Regions from separate parts of the Homo sapiens genome. Here region 2 is linked to region 1. The links come from fine-mapping of genetic effects on gene expression. Tissue or cell type: naive CD4 T cells. Region 1 holds a variant in brackets; the other region holds the start of a gene. All regions are shown on one strand. Distances are from middle to middle.

What was found. PIP is the estimated chance that this variant, and not a neighbour inherited with it, causes the effect.
Region 2: MAPK14 starts here. The variant in region 1 is fine-mapped to the expression of MAPK14 in naive CD4 T cells (Schmiedel 2018, PIP 0.93).

What each region holds. Positions count from the first base shown.
Region 1 is chr6:36,114,538-36,117,293 of GRCh38, reverse strand. It overlaps a transcript of MAPK14 not described here. Among named protein-coding and RNA genes, the nearest start is that of MAPK13, 15 kb to the left of the region's middle. RefSeq lists an enhancer at 1,977-2,056. The variant T/A (reference allele first, on the strand shown) is at 1,261.
Region 2 is chr6:36,026,729-36,029,228 of GRCh38, reverse strand. MAPK14 (mitogen-activated protein kinase 14) reads right to left here and starts at 1,421. Exons shown (of 12, transcript NM_139012.3): 1 at 956-1,421. The coding sequence starts at 1,071. RefSeq lists a silencer at 1,081-1,180 and an enhancer at 1,371-1,810.

The DNA of each region.
Region 1 (2,756 bases):
TGCTCATCTTCTAGGACATACAAAGCGAGTGCTGGCTTGAGCCCTTTTGGCTGAAAGAGGGAAAAGGTAGTTTCTCTTCAGAGGCCTGGAGGTGCATTTCTATCCCAGATGAGTAGAGAAGCGAGGGCAAGGGGCCTGGAACTAGGGAGAGAGACCCAGTGTGTGCTGAACAAGATAAGGCACCAGTGCCTGGCTGTGGCTGCCAGGGACTCCTCCCCAATTTGGCCAGCAGCAGCCAGGGAGTCCTTATGGAAATTATGCTGAATTAATTTTTTTAAATTTTCTTTAAAAAAACCAAAAGAGGATTGTCTAACACCAATGCTATAAAACTCTTTGGAACCAGGAGTCTTTCAACGTTGATATCAGGATAGTCTGTTGAATCTAGCCTCAGTTGTAACGTGACTGAGAAAGAGACATTACTTGTATAGAATATGCAAGAATGTAAATTGCCTAACATACAGTAGCAGTTCATTAAAAGAACTACTTTTTAGTAGGGAGGTAAGGAAAGTAGGGGGAAGGAGGTGAAGGAAGGAAGGAAGACCATAGGGAGCCAGGTCTGTCCTGCATTGTGGAGGTTTCACTTCTTAGGACTCCAGGTGTCCCAGAGTCATTTGATCTGTCAGCAGTTCTCAGCGGGTGCACTGAAATCTCTGGGGCCATTTTTGGTTATCATACTGATCAGGAGTATTACTGATATGAGCATGCACGGGCCACTGTGCAGAGTGGGATTCTTAACAAGAATTGCTTCACATTACAAACATCCTGCTGGACATTCATGAAGGTGGAAAAAACTATTTATGATTATCTGAGCCTAGACTGTAACTTGGTTTTACATATCAAACAAATACTTTTCTGCATATTAATATACTTACATTTCCCAGGATCACAACTGAGTAAATAAAAAAGTTCTCCAGGCTGGGCAACAGACTGAGACCCTGTCCAAAAAAAAAAAAAGATTCTAATTGTTTGTTTGAAATTTTTACCAAGAGTTGCTTACCACTTTCAGAAAAATCATGACTGACAGCAGTCAGCCATGGTATCTGAGTTGTCAAGACAACACAACTGTATCAGTACGCATTTGGAGCTGTCATATTCAAGGTGATTCTATGTATAGGTACAAGCATCTAACTACTTCATTATTTCTTTTATGTAGCTATGCCTGAGAATTTACTTTTTATTTTTTTTTAGACAGGGTCTCACTCTGTCACCCAGGCTGGAGTGCAGTGGAATGATCATGGCTCACTGCAGCCTCAACCTCCA[T/A]GGCTTAAGCAATCTTCCTGCCTCAGCCTCCTCAGTAGCTGGGACTACAGGTGTGTGCCACCATGCCCAGATAACTTTTTATTTTTTCATTTTTTTTTTTTTTTTTGAGACGGAGTCTCCCTCTGTTGCCCAGGCTGGAGTGCAGTGGCATGATCTCAGCTTACTGCAAGATCCACCTCCCAGGTTCAAGCAATTTTCCCGCCTCAGCCTCCTGAGTAGCTGGGACCCAGGTGGGTGCCACCACAGCTGACTAATTTTTCTATCTTGTACTAATTTCGTATTTTTAGTAGAGATGGGGTTTCACCATGTTGGCCAGGATGGCGAGTGATCCACTTGCCTCAGCCTCCCAAAGTGCTGTGATTACAGGTGTAAGCCACTGCGCCCCGCCCCAGTTAACGTTTTAAAAATTTTCTGTAGAGACGGGTTTCTCCATGTTGGCCAGGCTCATCCTAAACTCCTGACCTCAAGTGTTCTGCCCGCCTCAGCCTCCCAAAGTGCCGGGATTACAGGTGCGAGCCACCATGCCCAGCCAGCACTTATATATGGAAATGTATTCGTATTTTTCCTTTGTCATTTATATTGGATCATTATATTTTCTTTGAAATTGTGTGAATTATCTATGAATTTCACCTCAGCATTATAAAAGAGGTATTATAAAATATTAGTTATGCAAAGGGTAATAGATCTGACAAGAGTTTAGAACCACTGGTTTTTGTTAAGAATCTAGGCTGGGTCTGTGGTTTTACACCTTCTTCTTTTCTGCTGCAACTGACACTCAAATGGTGGTGGCAGTTTCTATTTTTAGTTGCAAACTGAAGGTTACTTCCTTATTTAACTTATAATAACTTCTAAACAAAGCACCTTCCTTAAATTGAACTACTCAAATAACTCTGCAATATAACATTATCCCACTGGCTATGCGTACTTAGACCACAGCCTATGGCTTCAATAATGGGTTTTCCAGAAACTGCCTCAGGACCATTTGTCCTCAGAAGCTCTCTCCCCAGTTGGCTTTAGAGACACACACTGTTCCCAGATGCAGAAGGCTGCAAACTCCCCCTAACAAGACAGCCTCGATGCCCCCTGTCAACTCGTGAGATGCAGACTAACCAGTATCTTGAGTGTCGACAACACACCAGGCACATTGAGATTTGTTATTTCCTTACTGGTCTAAGAAAATCTTGTAGTCATACCCCCAGTTTAATTACCAGATTTTCTGCCTGTGGATAATGGCAAAGAACTTCTGAACAAAGGATAACTTAATTTACTCAACCTACTGTTTTTTTTTAAGAAATGAAATGACCTTTATTCAGTACCAAACATATTTCCCCTAAAAATATGTATTTGAGTCTAAAAAGGCCTTTCCAATTTGTACTTTTCCTCCAAGATGCCAAGCTACTTTTTTTTTTTTTTTTTAAACAGAGTTCCACTCTTGTTGCCCAGGCTGGAGTGCTGCGGTGTCATCTTGGCTCACTGCAACCTCCGCCTCCCAGGTT
Region 2 (2,500 bases), 88 kb after region 1:
GCAAGCTCTCTAAGGGACTTTTAAAACACAGTATTCGCAGGAATTATCTCAAAAAATATTTACAATACCTCCCAGCACTGTTAATAACTTTTTGATCTTGAGGGCGCCTTACAGATCTGAATCTTTCTTGCTCCAAATGAGAAAATTGTTTTGTCGAACAATACTTAAATGAGCAGTGGTATGTGACTAATCAGTGAGCCTGCCAGTTTCTCAAGCTGCAGTGTTCTTGCAGGCACTACCACCGCCGCCCCTCCACGGAAAGGAAATACGCTTTCAACCGAATCGGAAACACACCACTCAAGCTGGCACAGTGCTCACCGAGATAAAGTCGGTATTTTAAGCTCTATGGATCGCTGTTAATTCAAGTGCGAATTCAAAAAGAACGCTTTTCAAGATGGGATTTCGACAGAGTTTTGAAAAAAAAAAAAAAAAAAAAAGGCCCGGAGAGAGCTCCCTTCCTGGTCAGTTTTGTTCAGATGACCGCAGTCTTCGGGTTGGGCTGTGCCCTTCTGCTTCTCCCGGCAGTTCCCCGAGCTTGTCTGCTCAGAGGACCCAGGGTCCGGAGCCCCAGCGTGGGCGCATCACGGGAGAGGGTCCTTCTGCTCCAGGTAGGCAGGGAGACCCCCAAGGAAGCGGCCCTTCCCCCGGTGCCTGTTGCCGAGCAGCAACCCTCCGAGAGGGGAAGGCGCAGGGTGCTAGCCAGAACCGAGCTCCAGCACCACCACCTACCTCTCGCAGCGGACCTGAGTGCTGCACACGGTGGACCGCATACCTGCGTGAGTGCAGGGCGAGGGGTGCTGGAGGTGCAGAACGGGCAGAGCTCGAAGGGGCAGCAATGCCCTCCCCCGAGGAAAATTCCTGCCACTTGACGCAACGCTGAGCAGTGGAGCAGGCCTGGCCCTCGGGCGCGAGGGGCCACCCTGCCCACAGCGGCCCCAGGCCCAGCGACACTCACCACACAGAGCCATAGGCGCCAGAGCCCACTGGAGACAGGTTCTGGTAACGCTCGGGCACCTCCCAGATTGTCTTGTTCAGCTCCTGCCGGTAGAACGTGGGCCTCTCCTGAGACATTTTCCAGCGGCAGCCGCCGGGCAAGAAGGTGGCCCTGTGGGGCCCCCGCCTGCACCCGCACCCTCTCCCCGGCCCTTGCTGCCCGCCCAGCCGGGCGGGGACCTTGCGCTGGTCGCCCGCGCAGGTGCGGCTGCCGCGACCCCGCAGACTCCCGCGCGCGCGGCTGCTGTCAGCCGCAGCGGCTGGATGTGCCCCTGCGACTGGGGCAAGCCCCGCTAAGGGCAGGGACGCGCTCCGGCGCTCAAGACTGCGCCCGCCGCGATCTCCCTGCACCTTCGCCCCTACAAGGCCGACTCCGGGCTGCGTCGCAGTACTCCCGTTCCAGCTGCTGCGCCCGCTAAGGCTCCAGTGGTCGCGGTTCCAAGAGCCAGCAAACGGGAGCCTCCCGCAGTACTCTCGCGAGAACAGCTCCCGGGACTCTCCGAGAGCCGAGATTTTACCCAATATGGAACCTCTCCGCGGGCGGGGCTTCGTGAGAGAAGAGGATGGGAGGAGCAGTTCTCGCGAGAAGAGAACAATAACTGGAGACCAAAGGCAGAAACTCCCAGGGACTGTCTCCTTAAGGGCGCGAAGGCGGACCGGGGAAGGAAGAGAGAAGCTGGCAGCACACGCCTCGCGCGCCTCACCGTGGCCGGCGGGGCAAATACCTGGCTCTGTGGTGGAAAACGACACTGACAAATAGCGTGTCGGGGAAAGAGTCAAAAGATCTTTAACTGCGAGTAGTTACCAGCAGCAGAGCACCTGCTCACCTGAACCCCCAAATTCCAAAAAACACTTGCATAAAAAAGAGACAAGTGGCCGGGCGTGGTGGCTCACGCCTGTAATCCCAGCACTTTGGGAGGCCGAGGCGGGCGGATCACCTGAGGTCGGGAGTTCGAGACCAGCCTGACCAACATGGAGAAACCCCGTCTCTACTAAAAATGCAAAATTAACCGGGCGTAGTGGCGCGCACCTGGAGTCTTAGCTATTCGGGAGGCTGAGGCAGGAGAATCGCTTGAACCCGGGAGGCGGAGTTGCGGTGAGCCGAGATCGTGCCATTACACTCCAGCCTGGGCAACAAGAGCGAAACTCCGTCTCAAAAGAAAGAAAGAAAGAAAGAGACAGGTTCCGGCCAGAAGGCTGTTGCATTCCCATCTGCTCAAGGACATATGGGTTACTCTTTGAGATGCTGACGAAATATGTCCCAAAGGCAAATGTTAACCCTGCATCAAAGCTGAGGCTTTCCAGGGGCTGGGCTCAGTGGCTCACACCTGTTATCCCAGCACTTTGGGAGGCCGAGGCGGGTGGATCACGAGGTCAAGCGATAGAGACCATCCTGGCCAACATGGTGAAACCTCGTCTCTACTAAAAAAAATACAAAAATTAGCTGGGCGTGGTGGCACGACCCTGTAGTCCCAGCTTCTCGGGAGGCTGAGGCAGGAGAATTGCA